Homo sapiens: one gene and its partner. The protein of the gene in region 1 interacts with the protein of each later gene in a pairwise test. Each region holds a gene or a part of one and is shown in the gene's direction. Other genes may lie near its edges. The genes, in order: BASP1 and LITAF.

What was found.
Region 2: the proteins of BASP1 (region 1) and LITAF interact in binary tests that used the Homo sapiens proteins (3 or more experiments, as listed by UniProt).

What each region holds. Positions count from the first base shown.
Region 1 is NC_000005.10:17,211,561-17,220,630, forward strand, and holds the start of BASP1 (brain acid soluble protein 1), read left to right. Parts: upstream 1-6,070; 5' UTR 6,071-6,250; intron 6,251-9,070.
Region 2 is NC_000016.10:11,547,071-11,556,235, reverse strand, and holds the end of LITAF (lipopolysaccharide-induced tumor necrosis factor-alpha factor), read left to right. Parts: intron 1-2,546; coding exon 2,547-2,703; intron 2,704-4,431; coding exon of another isoform or gene 4,432-4,513; exon of another isoform or gene 4,514-4,529; intron 4,530-6,490; coding exon 6,491-6,599; 3' UTR 6,600-8,514; downstream 8,515-9,165.

The sequences.
Region 1 (9,070 bases):
TAGGGAGTTTATCAAAAAGCAGAGTTAGGTAGACACTGGAATTTGGTCCGTATTTGCACTTTAGAGAAGTAGGCAAAGCAGCATCCCTTAATGTATTTACTTATAGTAAAAATGTGCATCCTTTGCATTCTGGTTAGCAATTTGCTTTTGCACTTACCAATTTATTTCGGGCACCATTCCTTGCACTGAAGTTAAAGTAGAAATATTCTAATTATGGTAAGGGCTGATCTGAGAGTAGAAGCAGGTGGTGCTGAGGAGTGGACGCAGCACACACTATTTAACACTAGGACCTCTACAGTCTCCATTATTCAAAGGTGGAGCCATGTGATTAATTGTTCTACAACATTCTTTGTGCCATTTTAAGGTAACTTGTTCTCTGACTGGTTTAACGGGTGACAATGGGGGAAGGGTAGCCAAGGAATCGAGGACTGTTTTCCCAAGACTGAGCTTGCTATGCCATAATCCCCTCCCTGGTGTCTGTAGGAACAGGTAGGCACTGCATGGAAAAAGCCCTCGCTGCTTAGGAGGCTATCACCTTTTTACCATTGGTTTGTTACAGGAAAGGGTCCCAATCCAGACCCCAAGGGAGGATTCTTGGATCTCATGCAAGAAAGAATTCAGGGTGAGTCCATATAGTACATTGAAAGCAAGTTTATTAAGAAAGTAAAGAAATAAAGATGAGTACTCCGTAGGCAGAGCAGCGGCATGGGCTACTTGGCTGAGGATACTTATAGTTATTTTTTGATCATATTTTTAAAACAAGAGGTGGATTATTCATGACTTTTCTGGGAAAAATGTGGGCAAGTCCCAGAACTGAGGGTTTTTCCCCTTTTTTGACCATATAGGGTAACTTCCTGATGTTGCCATGGCATTTGTAAACGGTCATGGCACTGGTGGGAGCAATGAGGACAATCAGAGGTCACTTTCGTTGTCATCTTGGTTTTGGTGGGCTTTGGCCAGCTTCTATACCACAACCTGTTTTATCAGCAAGGTCTCCAAGACCTTGCTGTATCTTATCCTGTGACTTGGAATGCTTAATCTCCTGGGAACGCAGCCCAGTAGGTCTCAGCCTTACTTTGCCCAGCCCCTATTCAAGATGGAGTTGCAAGGGTTTAAATGCCTCTGACAATTTTATGTATTTTCTTAATAGAAAATGCTGGGCCGGGCGCGGTGGCTCACGCCTGTAATCCCAGCACTTTGGGAGGCCGAGGCGGGCGGATCACGAGGTCAGGAGGTCGAGACCATCCTGGCTAACACGGTGAAACCCCATCTCTACTTAAAAAAAAAAAAAATTAGCTGGGTATGGTAGCATGCGCCTGTAGTCCCAGCTACTTGGGAGGCTGAGGCATGAGAATCTCTTGAACCTGGGAGGTTGCAGTGAGCCAAGATCGCACCACTGCACTCCAGCCTCGGCAACAGAGTGAGACTCTGTGTCCAAAAAAAAAAAAAAAAAAAAAAAAAGAAAATGCTGGTGACTAGAAATGTACTTTGGGACTGAAAGGATAGGTGGCAGAATTACAGTCTATGAAAGGGAGAACGGGGTTGGGAATGAGAGCTATTCAGGTAGACAGGCTTGTTTTTATCTGCCTCTCATCTTGGGCAAATGTTCCTAATGTAGCACCAAGGCCAGGCTGTCCCCTCCATTTCAACTCCGATGCTTCGTAGTAAACAAATGTTTGCTCAGGTTTCCCAGCTCTCCTTTTACAGTACATGAAGAGGAAATTAAATAGGGAAGCAAGGTTAAGTCATTTTCTTCCAGTTACTTGGTGTGCAGTAACAGGGAATGCAATTCAAAATCATTGCTTTTAATCTTTGACATACCTCTTGAAACTATTGCCTCAATTTGTGTTATAGTGGAGAATGGTGGTTAATGAAGGGCTTAGCGCACATTGTGCATTGCAGGCCCTTGTTAAAATTTCTCCATTAAATTTTGTGCCTCCAAGCCTTTTGCCCTGCTGAAGATACCTTAAGCCACAGGAAGAGGCAGCTTCCCTCTGCAGCATGCGCTCTTAGAAAAAAAAAAAAAAAAAAGATCAGGTATTTTCCAACTGGGCAGCAACTTGATGCTCATTTAAACCTGGGTTTCTCAACCTTGCCATTATTGACATTTTGGCCCAGAATGACTCTCGTGGGGTTGGGTAGGGTTGGGGTAGGAAGGAAGACAGACGAATATATAGATTTCAATATTTTCCTTTGGTTAAAAAATTATAAATATATTTAAGAGAAAAAAAGCCGTACACTTTCATCTGTAATACTGTCTGGCCTTTTGCTTGCAATTTGCAGATAAGATTTTGTAAACAAATTGCAGCAAGTTGGTCCTCCACGGAAAACTTACCAGTAGAGCTGAATTTACTTTCAAATTCTCTAAATGGGTTTCTGAGGGTTTGGGTTAATGCAGTGGCCTTGAACAGGAACTATCCAGAAAGATGTCAAGCAAAGGTGGCTAGAGTCACACTCGGGTGACACTACTGTCACCATGCTTCTGCTTCATTCTTGTTCTACATCTTTTATTTGAGATTTTAATCCTCTTTTTACTATTTAAGAGGAAAGGATGGGGAACTGAGAAAGACGCTAGGCCTTGGTGGGTGATGTGGGAGGTGGGGAGAGGGAAGATAAGAGTGAGGTTTTGAGGCTTGATGAGGTCTGTATAATTATCTATTGTAGGTGTCTTAGTTGACACAATAGATATGATTTGAAAAGCTGAAGGCACATGGAAATTTTTGTAAACTGACTAGTAATTTAAATGACAATGAGACCATTATATTGCAAGCAAAGACAAATCTTTTAGAAAAAAATTAGTAATCACGAATAATTTATCTTTTGGATAATGATTTTCATAATGCAGGTTATGCTTCCCTGGAGCAAGTTATGCAGGCAATTAAAAATGACAATGGAATTCAGTTTATAACCGATGAAATCCAGCTTTGTTTGTCAAAAACAAATGCATTCATTCCATTTGGAGAGTAAAACAGTCTTTTTTTCATGAGCATAATGGTGAAAGCTAATTAAATTTATCATAAATTACACCCTTAATATTTGTTCTCAAGATCATTAGTCTATAATGTAAACAGACACATTCACAATAGTTAATGTTAACAGTTTTCTAAAATTCAGAACTTTAAAGGTTTATTCATTTATTCCCTAAGCATCAGTTTAAAAAAATGTTTTAAAGAGCATACACATTAAAAAGTATGATATTAGATGAACAACTAAAAATTAGACTAAAAACATCGCCAAATTGGATTTTATATAGTAATATTGTTACATTGAGAGGTAACATTTTGGCAACCATTTGCTGCAAACCTACAAATTCTGTAAAAGCTTCTAAAGATTAATAGCACTATCAGTCAGTTGCATCATTATCTCATTGAAAATGAATTCTCACCCTCCTTTAAAAAAATTTAAAAAAATGTTTTAAGAGAACAACTAAATCTGATGGAAGACAAAATTAAGGAGACCTGCAGTTCTCCTTGTTGGTGTAAGCTTTTGCCTCCGGTTTCTATGGTAACCCGTGATCTGTATTCCAATCACACCTTTGAAAGGTTTGTTTTCTCCATCATGAAAATTTAGCTGGAAGCACTGAAGGTACTGAACATTAATTTTTATGTTGTCTTTTTTTTTTGGAAAAATTGGAAAAAGAGAATAGAGAAGGAAGATAACACCCACAGGCTTAGACTGCAAATACAATGAGGAAATGTATTTGCTAATTTTTAGATGATTTACATGCCTGGAAGATCACAAGGATAAAAACCCTGAATGCTAAATGAACAAGTAGGCAGCTCCTCTAACAAACTCAGGAAATGTCTTGAGCAGAACATTGCAAATATTCATCTAATTCGATAGGGTAAAAACCTAGAGACTTGCTCATAGAGGTTGAAAGAAAATGTAGCTCAGTGGTTTTCAGCCTGGAGTGATTTTGCCTCCCAGGAGACATTTGGCGATATCTGGGGACATTTTTGGTTGTCACAACTGGTGCTGGTGCTGGTGGTGTGTGTGGAGGGTGGTACTGGCTGCTAGTAGAGGCCAGCAATGAATGCCAGACATCCTACAGTGCATAGGACAGCCTTCCACAACAAAGAAATATCTGGCCCCAAAAGGAGGTGGGAAAACCTGCATCCTCCATTTAGCTTTATAGATGGTGTACTGGTGTGAGGGAAATAAATATTCAAAAGAATAAAATGCTTTAGAAGCAACCTCATTTGTAATTTGCTTCCCTGGTATTTTACTACACTAACTTTTTATTTCACTTTAAATGGCAGAAAGAGAAACAGGAAAAAACAAACAGTTCCCGCTTTTTTCTTACCTTTGGTTTAAATTTGAACATTTCCAGCTGGCATGCATTAATCTAATTTGGTGCTGCCTCCTATGACCTGTAAATGTGTACAGTAGGGTCGTCAAGTGTTTCCACTGCAAAATCGCTAGTGCAGTTGAGTAAATATTGCCACTTTGCTTAATTCAAATATGTACGTTAAAGTTACGATAAGTTAATTTTCCTGTTAAGTGAAAATGCACTTACCTTTACCCAGTTGAATACAGATGTACTTGCCTTTGACGTCTGCCTCCCTAAGTATGGTTACAGTTTGTCACTCCGGTTCTGGAGGGCCACCCTGTCCCTGAATTCACGCCCAGGTCCTGAGGGCAGAACCATCCTGAGGACAACCTGCAGCTCCATCGATTTTTTCTTGGCTGGGACGCAGGCGAGCATGAAAGCGATCCAAACACAGCCAGAGGGCGCCAAAATGCCGCAAATAAAAGTTCCAAAGGCGTCAACTGGCTTTTGCGGGAAGGTAAAATTGGCTTTTGTGTAATCAAAGAGCTACCGTTGTCAACGATGTCACGTTACGTTATTTTTGTATGTCCCTCTTGCCAACAGGTAAGCAAAGTGAACGCATCTTCCTACCCCGGTGGCTATTCTGTGTCCCGGTGCTAAACCAAGTGTCCGCCCCCTTAGGGCACCCGGACAAGCCGCGGTTGGCCCTAGCTTTGACTCGAGCGCTCGCAAGCAGCAGCGTGCGGGCTGCCTCGGCCAACCCCGTCTTCTCAATATTGGTGGCCTCCATTAAAGCACAGACATCAAAAACATCGACGGCCCCTTTCCCCTCTTCTCTTCCCTCCTTCCTCTCCCAAGTTCCGAGAGCATCCTCCGAGGGGCGACGTCTCTCGCCCCACCAGCTGGACCTCGGCGACCGCGCCTCCCCCGAAGCTGCAGCCTTCGGGGCTGAGCCCCGCGGGTGCGGGTGCAGGTGCGGAGCCGCCCAAGGTGCGCAACTCGTTTGCAGCGGCGCAGCCCAGACGCGCCTGCAGCTGGGGCTCACCCCAACCTCGCTGCCAGCCGAGGTAGCGGAATCGTAGTCGACGTCGGGAGCGGGCTGGACTGGGGTCTGAGAAGGGTAGCTGGTGCCAGGGGGTGTCATTCATCACCTCGAGGCAGCTCCCTAAGTCTGAGCGAGAGCCCGAGCACTTCTTATCCAACGGTTCCAAATAAATGAGGGGGAGAGAGAGAGAGAGAGTGAGAGAGAGAGAGAGAGAGAGAGAGTGAGTGAGAGAGTGAGAGAGTGGGAGAAGTCCACGGACAGCCCAGGCGGCGCGGCGGGGGAAGGGGGACGCAGGAATGGAGGAGAGGAGAGGGGAGGCGGAGGGGGGATCTGAATAGAGGGCATTTAGGAAACGTTGGCGGGGCACAGAGTTGGGAGGTGGGGGGAAGGGAGGAACCAGGATGGCGGATAGGAGAGAAATGGGGGTGACTGTGCTGGAGGGGAGGGGAGGTGGGGGCCCAGAGCTGGGGGGAGTCAAGGGGAGGCGGGCGTGTCCAGGCTGGAGGGGAGAGGGGAGGGTCTGCGCCGGAGGAGGGGAGGGGAGCAGAGGGAGTGCAGGGGGTGGGGAGATGGAGCTGGAGGGGGTGGAGGGGAGACGGGCGGGGCGCCGGGCTGGAGGGAGGGGAGAGAGGCGGGCGGGGAGCGCGGGAGGAGGGAGGCTGGGCGGGCGGACGCGCGGGGGGAGGGCACTGGGCAGGAAGGGGAGGGGGAGCGAGCGCGAGAAATGCAGAGGCTGCAGCGGCGGCGGCGGCGGCAGTAGCGGCAGCGGCGACGACGGCGGCGGCAGCGCTCCAACTGGCTCCTCGCTCCGGGCTCCGCCGTCGAGCCGGGAGAGAGCCTCCGCCAGCGGCCAGGCACCAGCCAGACGACGCCAGCGACCCCGGCCTCTCGGCGGCACCGCGCTAACTCAGGGGCTGCATAGGCACCCAGAGCCGGTAAGGAGGCGCGCCCGGTGGCCCCGCGCCGCCGCGGACCCGGGGGCCTCCGTCCCCCACCGCGCCGCGCCCCGCCCCGCAGCCCCCGGGCTCTCCCTTCATGCAGCGGGCAGCAGGGATGTGGGCCCGGATTGGACGGCAAGGGCCTGGGGTCCCTCTGTGAGGGCTCCGTCGCACTTCGGGGATCCCGGGTGATGGGGGGCCCAGAAGTGGGAGGCTTCAGCCGCTCGCATGGTGGAGGGGTGAGGGGGGCGGCGAGGTTGGTAAACGGAGCTGGGGGGAGGGGGCTGTCGGGGAGAGGAGCTGCGGGTGACGGGAGGAATTGCCGAATGCGAAACCCCCTCAGTGCGTTGAGTCCCGGGGAGACGGTTCTGTGGGCTGAAGGGAGCGCTTCCGTCATCGGAGCCCTTACCAGCCTGGGAGAAAGCGCTCGGGGCGAGGGGCGCAGCAGCCAAAGATGGAGGGTGGGGGTGGGGTGGGGCGGGAGTCCGGGGAGAAAGAAGATGGGGAATCTGGCCCGATCAGAAGGAAGTGGGTGGCTTTTTGCTTTGGCAAACGGGTTTTCTCGACCCATGGGACTCCTGGATCTTGGTTCTGGGGCCAAGGAATACGAGGTTCACACGGCGACGTGCACTCAGAAGCACCTCCCGAGCAGATCGGAGCCCCAGCCTCGTCAGTGGCGGAATTGCCTTCCTACGAACCCGTGGGCTGCCTCGGAGCAGTTTGTTTTTTCGAGCCTTTGGTTCCAAGAATGCGCCAGGCGCCTCCGCCCTGGGTCCCGGCCCCGGCCCGGGCCCGGGGGGTGTGGGCTTGAACCTGACAGCGCGCGGCCCTAACTGGGCTCAGCCCCGCTGGGAGCGTAGGGTTGGGGTTGAGCAGCTTTTGCCCAAAGCGCTAAAGCTGAAACCCGGCGCCCGGTTCCTGCTCCCCCCGCCCCCGTCCCCCCTCCATTTCCAGAAAAATAAAAATTGCGGAATCCTGGATCCGATCGCACGCACAATGCGCGGCTGCAAACCGCATTCTTTTCATGAATATTCATCGAACGCTTGGCCAGGCTCCTTATCTGCGTCCCCAGAGACATTTCCGCCTTGAAACGAACTCGGTGGACAGCCCTTGCCCATGTAATTCTCACTCTGCTGAAATTAGCACAGCACACATGGGTGCATTTTTTAGGACCTTGTACAGGTTGACAACACCTCTGTCTCCCCCGCGGCCACTCGCACTGTGGGGCGGGCTAAAACCCAACACTAGCGTCGAAATGGCCTTCTGCTATAGGGTTGTGGACCGACCCCCCACCCCCACCTCCCGGGATTACAGCCCGGGCCAACAGACCCCCAGTATACTGCAGGCAAAATGAATGAATCGGGACTGTAATTACCTATTCCTTTGTCTTGGCCTCGCGCATGCGCCGGAGAGCAGGGTGTGGAGGGCCCGGCAGCCCCATCCCATCTCCATCATCCAGCCACCCACTCCCCTCCCGAGCCGAGGAACAAAGGCGTTTGCCCTAAATGTTGCGGGAAACCCTTGGACACCAATGACAGTTTTTCCCGCCTGTGTGTGTGTTTCTTCTTTTCCAGGCTGTCTCTCATCTTTTGCTTTCTTGCTGATTTCAATTGACCAAAATTAAGATTTGCCTTGATGAGGATGAAGGCAAATTGTGGATTAAATATTTTGTACCCGCACACTGTTATTTTCCTTTCTAGTACTGTTCATTGTTCTTTTTCCTGTAACATATCTTACTGCAGTGAGGGTGGCTTTCTTAATTTGCATCAATTAACCGTTTGACAGATCTTTTTTGGTCATTTGATTAAGGGAAGGTGGCCTCAAAACTGTCAGTGGGCGTTGCCTCCAGTGACACCACCTGGGGAAAATTAAGACATCTTGGCGTTTATTCGAACAAGATGGCCTACAAAAACCGGAGAGAAGAAAACGATTACCTTGTCGGGATCCTAACCCTTTCTGTTTTCTCTGGACTCCGAACTCATTGTTTCATTAAGGATTCCAAAAGGCGAATGGCGTCCAGATGGAAATCTGATGGGGGCAGAAAGAAGGCAGTCGTTGGGGTGAAGCTGGTTGATTAGGTTCGCAATGATTCCTTTTTCCCCATTACCTAACAGAAGCCATGATATACCTTTGATGGCTGATTTTCTTTCAGATGATCTATTTTCCAGGTTATGGCCATTTAGATTTATTTTCAGGTAGTTTGTTTTTACCACACAAAAAGGGACTTATTGTGTATATTAAATAGGAGCCAAATATGATATTTTTTGCAGTGGTAGGTTATGTTTAATAGGGTTTTATGCTTAAGTACTGTCAGTACATCCTGGTGGAATAACGCGTGGCAGCAATGGAAATCATCTCTTTTGTCCTTTTTGATGAGAACTTGATATTGACCACGTTTAATATATCAGGGCCCATCTACTGGCTACGGTGGCTGTCTAGCTGTCTTCTAGGTGGCATGGATTGTACCCTCTGTACTCCTTAGTATTGAGTAGGTTATTATGATTTAGAGAGCTACGTTCTTTCTTTTTTCTTTTCCTTTAGGTTGTGTTTTTGGCGAGGGGTATGTTGGAATATAGAACAAATTCAATAGCAAATATATACCAGCATGTCCCCAATTCAGTAAATCTTAGGTTTTTGAGTGAGATAATATTTAAATCGATTTTTAAAAATTATTACAGAATTAAAATATTTCTATCAGTTCGCTTATTCTTTTAGCCAGCTAGCTTTTTGCCAAGCTTTAGCAGATAGAGAAATTGAGCCTTTTGATAAAAAGCACCAACAATGACAGTGGCATTTCTGTTCTTTAACTGGTACTCA
Region 2 (9,165 bases), on another chromosome or scaffold:
TGAGAATGGGAGTTTGTGTCTTAAGGGCCCGCACACTTCCTCCTGAGGTCTGATGCAGAACTTCTGCCCTGAGGCCAGGGCCGAGGTAGGAATAGGGAGGAGAAGAAACCGTCCTGAGCAATGTGTGATTGTGTTTTCATACCAGCTCACCCTCAATGCAAGTTGCTCTTCTGCTTTTGAGCAACTAGATGGTCCCTGTCCTTTGGTGCTTCCTTCCGCCCAAGGGTGCCCTGGTATGTCACTGCTTTAGTATCACAGGTAGTTCTGAAAGAAATCTTTAGCTCAGAGAGGGGGCCCGTGAATCAGACTGCCTGGGTTCACATAACCTCCTTGTGCCTCAGCTTCCCCATTTGTAAAATAGGTTTCATCAAGTACCTATTTATAAATATCAGTGAGTTGTTAACATGAGAGGAAGTTGTGTGTGCCAAATACAGAGTACTCGTTTGATAAAAGTGAACTCTTATTGTTGTGTTCAAGTTATTTTGAGCTGGAAGAGGATGAGATAATGACTTTAGATTCTTAGACCATCCTGTGATCAATAAATAGTTTCTTTTTCTTTTTCTTTTTTTTTTTTTTTGAGACAGGGTCTCACCATGTTGCCCAGGTTGGAGTGCAGTGGTGCAGTCATGGCTCGCTATAGCCTGGACCTCCTGGGCTCAAGTGATCCTCCCACTTCAGTCTCTGGAATAGCTGAGACTACAGGCATACAGCACCACACCTGGCTAATTTTTAAATTTTTGTGTAAATCGGGTCTCACTGTTTTTCCAGGCTGATCTTTAACTCCTGAGCTCAAACGATCTTCCCACCTCCCTTGGCCTCCCAAAGTGTTAGAATTATCAGCATGAGTCACAGAGCCTGGTCCAAATAACTTATTCTTGAACCCCAAAAACACTTAATAAAATGTATGAACAGGGTGTGGTGGCTTGCGCCTGTAATCCTAGCTACTGAGGAGGCTGAGGCAGGAGGATCACCTGAGGCCAGGAGTTCCAAACCAGCCTGAGTGACATAGTGAGACATTGTCTCTATGAAAATAAAATTAGCTGAGTGTGATGGCTTGTACCTGTAGTCCCAGCTACTTGGGAGGCTGAGGTGGGAGGATTGCTTAAGCCCAGGAGGTTGAGGCTGCAGTGAGCTATGATTGTACCCCTGCACTCCAGCCTGGGCAACACAACAAGACCTTGTCCCCCCTGCCAAAAAAAAATTACACGTAAGTGCTAAAGTATGATTTAATACTACTTTTCTGGAAGGAGGGTCTTTCTATGAGTATTACTAAGTTCAGTTAACTCTAGGCAGTAATTTCCCCCTAATTCATTTGTTATATAAATGACATTCTAACGTAAAAAGGAACAGAAGGAAGTTGCTTTAACAAAAATATGAGCTTAACAACTGAAGTGCTTGATGATTTTCATCACCCTGGGTTCTCTCTTTTTTTTTTTTTTTTTTTTTTTGAGGTAGAGTCTTGTTCTGTTGCCCAGGCTGGAGTGCAGTGGCATAATCTCGGCTCACTGCAACCTCTGCCTCCCAAGTTCAAGCAATTCTCCTGCCTCAGCCTCCCAAGTAGCTGGGACTACAGGCACGTGCCATCATGCCCGGCTAATTTTTGTCTTTAGAAACAGGGTTTCACCATGTTGGCCAGGCTGGTCTTGAACTCCTGACCTCTGGTGATCCACGCACCTCGGCCTCCCAAAGCCAAGGGATTTGCTGGGATTACAGGTGTGAGCCACCGTGCCCGGCCTGGATTCTCTTCTGATTCTTGAGAATGTTCGAACATGTTTTCACATAGCTTTTTCTTCCTAGCATTATTTTATATTTTCATTTCTTGTATCAACACAGTTCACTAGCTTGTTGTCTTACAGAGTTGGCCTGCGTTTCCTGGCTTGGTAAACTCTACCCTTATCATTGGCTGTCAGAGTTTATCAAAGGGTTTGTGTAAAGAGAGTGGATTATTTATCAAGAGCTGCTAGGCACAGTGTGAGGCTGGTTAAAATTTATTTATTTGTTTTTGGGACTGAGCGTCGCTCTGTTGTCCAGGCTGGAGAGCAGTGGCGCAATCATGATTCACTGCATCCTCAATCTCTCAGACTCAACTGATCCTCCCACCTCAGCCTCCTGAGTAGCTGGGACTACAGGCGTGTACTCCCACGCTGGGCTAATTTTTATATTTTTTTGTAGAGATGAGGTCTTGTCATGTTGCCTAGGCTGATCTCAAACTCCTAGGCTCAAGCAGTCCTCCCACCTCGGCCTCCCAAAGTGTTGGGATTACAGGCATGAGCTACCGCGCCCGGTCCTCCTTTCTTTTTGAGGCTGAATCATATTCTGGTGGATGGATAAACTTCGCTGTGTTAGTTTATTGGTCCGTCGATGGACACTGGTGTTCCTTCCCCTTTTGGCTCTCATAGATAGCCAGACGATGAACGCATGCTATGAACACAAATGTACAAATATAATATTTGCTGGCATCCCTGCGTTCCTCTCTTTGTCCTGTAGTGAATGCTATTGGCCTTGTTTCCTGAGCAACCTGTGTTTGTCCCTCTCCCTTTCATCAGTTACCGTGCAGACGGTCTACGTGCAGCACCCCATCACCTTTTTGGACCGCCCTATCCAAATGTGTTGTCCTTCCTGCAACAAGATGATCGTGAGTCAGCTGTCCTATAACGCCGGTGCTCTGACCTGGCTGTCCTGCGGGAGCCTGTGCCTGCTGGGGTGAGTCTGCCTCCCACTTGGCCCCAAGCCATCCTGCCCTTCTCTCTGGGTGCTGGCGGGGGTGGGTTCTCAACTGCACCATGCTTGACATTCAGGGCCAGACATTTGTGTTGTTTTTTTTTGAGATGGAATCTGGTTCTGTCGCCCAGGCTGGAGTACAGTGGGGCGATCTCGGCTCACTGTAACCCCCACTGCTCAGGTTCAAACGATTCTCCTGCCTTAGCGTCCCGTGTAGCTGGGATTATAGGGGTGCACAACCACGCCCAGCTTATTTTTAGTAGAGCTGGCATTTCACCATCTTGGCCAGGCTGGTCTCAAACTCCTGACCTCAGGTGATCTGCCCACCTTGGCCTCCCAAACTGCTGGGGTTACAGGTGTGAGCCACTGTGCCTGGCCTAAGGCATTTCTTTCTTTTTTTGTGATGGATTCTCACTCTGTTGCCCAGGCTGGAGTGCAGTAGCACGATCCCGGCTCACTGCAACCTCCGCCTCCCAGGTTCAAGCTATTCTCCTGCCTCAGCCTCCTGAGTAGCTGGGATTACAGGTGTGCACCGTCAGGCCCGGCTAATATTTTGTACTTTTAGTAGAGATAGGGTCTCACCATGTTGGCCAGGCTGGTCTCGAACTCCTGACCTCAGGTGGTCCACCCGCCTCAGCCTCCCAAAGTGCTGGGATTACAGGTGTGGGCCATCATGCCTGGCCCAAGACATTTCTTTATTGTAGGGGGTGTCCTGTGCATTGTAGGATATTGAATAGCATCCCTGGCCCCCACCCGCTTAATGCTAGGAGCACCACGCTCCCCAGTGTTCTGAACAAAAATGCCCCCTGGGAGGCCAAGTCATCCCTGCTGCTCTTAAGCGTATCCGTCCCCAGAAATTGGTCTTCCGTCTTTTCTTCTTGCTTATCTGCTGAAACCACGCCCTGCATGTAGGGACAAGCTTCACAGCTGCTTCCAGCTGTGTACAGGGCAATATCCTCAGGGATTCCTTTTTCTTCTAGAATTTCATGACCTAAATAATAATGTTTTGCTCGAGCCCGAGGGAAGCTTTAAAGAATCTGTACATTAAAATTCTTCATAGGAATTGCTTCAAAACTTCTTATCCTTTTATGACCCGAAGTATTTTTCCCATTGCCCATGCAGGGAAATTATATAAATTTTATGTCTGCACCAAAGGTATTATGTTTAAAGAGATAACAGTTTCTGTTCTGGGAGAAAAATCTGAGGAAACACAATCAATTTTTTGTTTCCCACCAAGCAGGTAAAAGTAGCTTCCTTATACCTGGCCACGTGAGCCACTCAGAAAACCCCAAGGGGCTCCATTCTTTTCCTTGAAGGAAACGGTGTTTGTGAGTTTCAGGAGCCTCATGCAACCGGCACGTTCCTCCACATTGTCCTTTGGTGACTTGAGGTTGAGAAGGAACAATATTTCTCTTCCTAACTTCAATAAGAGGCTCAGAGTCCCAGAGAGTTTAGTTAACTTCCTTGAGGTCATGTGTTAAATAAGGAAGGAAGGAGACAAAACAGCTTTCTGGGCACCTGATTCCCCCTCTTGCCCACAGGACTCTGCTGTTGTTTTCATTCTGTGGGCAGAAAATGCTTAAAAAAAAAAAAAGTCCATTGCCTCTGGATATTTGTATTAAAACAAATTTTTTATCTTTGGAATCAGGGAAAGATGGAATAGAAACTTGTTTTGTTTTGTTTGAGGCTGAGTCTTGCTCTGTTGTCCAGGCAGGAGTGCAGTGGTACGATCGTAGCTCTCCGCAGCTTTGATCTCCTGGGCTCCTGCAATCCGCCCAGCTCAGCCTCCTGAGTACCTGGGACCACAGGTGTGTGCCACCATACCTAGCTAATTTTTAAATTTTTTTTTTGTGTGTGTGGAAGCAGGGGTTTTACTATGTTGCCCAGGCTGGTCTTGAACTCCTGGACTCAAGCAGTCCTTCTGCCTTGACCTCCCAAAGTGCTGGGATTATAGAGGAATAGAAACTTACATTGAGTATTGGCCTCTGCCAGTCTGGCTTTAGAAATTGAGGCAACCTTTCTTTCCCTCCCTTTGTTCCTTCCTTAAACATGGTAGAGTGGGTTCAAATCCTGCCTCTCACTAGCTGTGTGGCCATGGGCAAGTGACTTTACCTCTCTGTGCTTCAGTTTCCCCATCTGTAGACGGGGGTGCGGGGCAATAACGCCCACCTCAGGGCCTGCTGAGGATGAAATATGTGTGTGTGCTGCCTGGAGCCGTGCCTGCACCTGTAAGCCATAGGTTAGGATTCCTGCTGAATGGATTGACTGCCCTTATTTGAGCTCTGGAAAGCTTAGGCAATAGGAGGAAATTTCTTTCATGAGATAATTTCCTCATCAGAATATTTCCAAATTCTGCTTTATGTAAACCAGCGTCTTCCTGTGAAGGGTTGAGTTTTAACTCCATTTTTGGCAAACATTGGTTGTCAGGCGGTCTGAGGTTCCTGCCTGTGTGTGCCAAAGGTGGATTATGTAGGTTAAGAGGCATTATTTGGGGAACTCTACTTGGTTGCTGTAAGAAGCAGCCTGTCTATATGGAAAAGAGATCAGTAAGACGGGGGTTGGCAAAACGACCCTGGAGCCAGGCGCCTGTTTTAAGTTTTACGGGAACACAGCCACGCCTGTTGGTTTTTGGATTCTCTGTGGCTGTCTTCTCATTCCAAGGGCAGAGTTGAGCAGTTGCAACAGAGACGCCATGGCTCATCAGGATGAAAGTATGTGGCCGGGTGTGTGGTGGCTTCCACCTGTAATCCCAGCAATTTGGGAGGCGGAGGTGGAAGGATCACTTGAGGCCAGCAGTTCAAGACCAGCCTGTGCAACATAGCAAGACCCCATCTCTACAAAAACAAACAAAACACAGCAACAAAAAGACTAAAAGATCTACTATCTGTCCCTTTGCAAAAAAAGTTCACCAAGCCCATCTAAGACTTTGAAAGACTCCCAAATGACCCCAGATTTGAAAATAATACTCAAAGGGGCTCTGTCTGTAGGAGGAGCCTTGGCATTGGCTGGCATGTTAATTTCCTAGGGGTGTCATCACAAATTACAACACACCTAGTGTTTAAAACAACAGATATTAACTCTCACAATTCTAGAGGCCAGAAGTGCAAAATCAAAATGTCAGCAGGGGCCGGGTGTGGTGGCTCTCGCCTGTAATCCCAGCACTTGGGGAGGCCAAGGCGGGTGGATCACTTGAGGTCAGGAGTTTGAGACCAGCCTGGCCAACACGGTGAAACCCCAACTCTCCTAATAATAAAAAAATTAGCTGGGCCTGGTGGCATGCGCCTGCAATCCCAGCTACTCAGGAGGCTGAGGCAGGAGAATTGCTTGAACCCAGGAGGAGGGAGAATTGCTTGAACCCTGGGCGACAGAGCGAGACTCCATCTCAAAAACAAAACAAAACAAAACCAAAAACTAAAATGTCAGCAGGGCCACGCTCCCTCCTAAGGCTTCAGGGAGAATCATTTTTTGCCTCCTCCAGCTTCTAGTAGGTCCAGGTGTCCTTGGCTTATGGCCTCATCACTCCAGCTTCTGCCTCTGTCTTCACATTTCCTTCTGCCCTCTCTGTATCTCTGTGTGTCCTCTCCTCTTCTTCTAAGGTCATTGGGTTTTAGGGGTCCGCCTGGATAATCCAAGATGATCCCATCTCAAAATTCCTAATTATACTGGCAAAGACCCTTTTTACAAAGAAGGACATGAACATGGTTTTGGCAGCCAGTGTTCACCCTGTTGTGATCAGTAACGCGCTCCGTGTGTCTCTCTCTCCTCCCAGGTGCATAGCGGGCTGCTGCTTCATCCCCTTCTGCGTGGATGCCCTGCAGGACGTGGACCATTACTGTCCCAACTGCAGAGCTCTCCTGGGCACCTACAAGCGTTTGTAGGACTCAGCCAGACGTGGAGGGAGCCGGGTGCCGCAGGAAGTCCTTTCCACCTCTCATCCAGCTTCACGCCTGGTGGAGGTTCTGCCCTGGTGGTCTCACCTCTCCAGGGGGCCCACCTTCATGTCTTCTTTTGGGGGGAATACGTCGCAAAACTAACAAATCTCCAAACCCCAGAAATTGCTGCTTGGAGTCGTGCATAGGACTTGCAAAGACATTCCCCTTGAGTGTCAGTTCCACGGTTTCCTGCCTCCCTGAGACCCTGAGTCCTGCCATCTAACTGTGATCATTGCCCTATCCGAATATCTTCCTGTGATCTGCCATCAGTGGCTCTTTTTTCCTGCTTCCATGGGCCTTTCTGGTGGCAGTCTCAAACTGAGAAGCCACAGTTGCCTTATTTTTGAGGCTGTTCTGCCCAGAGCTCGGCTGAACCAGCCTTTAGTGCCTACCATTATCTTATCCGTCTCTTCCCGTCCCTGATGACAAAGATCTTGCCTTACAGACTTTACAGGCTTGGCTTTGAGATTCTGTAACTGCAGACTTCATTAGCACACAGATTCACTTTAATTTCTTAATTTTTTTTTTAAATACAAGGAGGGGGCTATTAACACCCAGTACAGACATATCCACAAGGTCGTAAATGCATGCTAGAAAAATAGGGCTGGATCTTATCACTGCCCTGTCTCCCCTTGTTTCTCTGTGCCAGATCTTCAGTGCCCCTTTCCATACAGGGATTTTTTTCTCATAGAGTAATTATATGAACAGTTTTTATGACCTCCTTTTGGTCTGAAATACTTTTGAACAGAATTTCTTTTTTTTAAAAAAAAACAGAGATGGGGTCTTACTATGTTGCCCAGGCTGGTGTCGAACTCCTGGGCTCAAGCGATCCTTCTGCCTTGGCCTCCCGAAGTGCTGGGATTGCAGGCATAAGCTACCATGCTGGGCCTGAACATAATTTCAAGAGGAGGATTTATAAAACCATTTTCTGTAATCAAATGATTGGTGTCATTTTCCCATTTGCCAATGTAGTCTCACTTAAAAAAAAAAAAAAGAAAAAGAAATGGATAATTTCATCTACTGCCTTTACTTGGGGTTAATGTGATTCTTAAACACCTTCATCATGGAACTCTCAGAGTGGGGTCCGTTTTGGTTTCCTGGTGGTGGGTTTTGAAAGATAAGGGAAAGCACATTTTGAGCATGTCTGGGTACCATGGTGCGGATGCTTGGGAACCAGAACTGTTTCAGAGGAATCTAAAGTCTGATTTTAGTTTTCAGAGACACAGCTTGTTGTAAAACATGAGAAGACATGATTTCTAGGACTCAAGCAGCAAGCCAGGATTCTAGGTTGGCTGCTGTGTCATCTTTGAAGTCAAGACAAAGCTGGGCTCGACCTTCAAGGGTCCTCGTTTTGATAATACTTCAGAATAGGGAACTCATGTGAATACTACTATGTAGAAATAAAACCTAGACCTTGAGCGAACATCTGTATATTGGTTGAAAACGATAGTGGTAACCATTGATCCCCCTTCATTTGATGTTTGGAAAATTCCAGTAATTATCATTTTTGCAACGAATATGGATACCACATAGTACTTTGGTGTTACCTGCTTTTGAAAAATAAAGTCTTTGGTTCACCCGGTGAACTATTTATGAGTTCTTTTGGTGTGAAGAAAGGGCTCATGTTGCATTTCCAGCCATTGCTACAAAGAACCTTTATTTGTTCAGTAACGGTAGAAAATCCTTCCCGATTAAAAACTTCAGACTTGCTGAATATCCTGCAATGTCAAGATGACCGATGTTGAGTTGGGTGGATTTGCTAACGAGTCAGATTTGAACATGAGGCTATTGGAACCCAATAGGCGTCATTGATGGCGGCAAGCCATAGCTTTCAAGTTTTAATAAAATGCACAAAAGAGAACTGTCCCCATTCATTCTCTGAACAAAACATGCTTTGTGAGATGCTAAAAGGAGGGTATTGTAACATGTCAGGAATATGGATGCCGCCTTCCCCCGTCCTTTGCTACCTGATGATACAGCTTCATTTTGCTAGATGCAAGGAAATAATGTCATCTTGGTGTGGCTTAATTGTCATTTAAACCCTAAATTACAGTCTTGAAAAACTGCTGCTTTCCAGATCTTGATTGTGTAGTTTCGGGGCCATGCATATTTAGCAGTTTGGCTCAGATGGTGGCATGTACATGATCTCAAGCTATTATTAATTACATATGCAAAGTCTTCAAAACAAGAGCCCTATTTCAGGATCGTAAAAACATGTCTTATGCGGAACTTTCATGTCAGATGCCTGGAGTGTGAAGTGTTCATTGGACATTCCATTTTACTGTTCGAAGTATGGACTTACATATCAAATTAAAAGGCTCTTTTGTTCTGCCACTGTTTGGTGGGGACTTGAGAGTCTCTTGCAAACACTGGTTCACATTCAATTAATGAAAGGGCTTTATACCTACCTACTTGGACCGCAAAGAGGAATTTTACCAATCTGAAACCAAAAGTGACTGTATATCTTATATTCTGTTATGTCCATCTAGGCGAGGTGGCCTTCTAAGAAGTG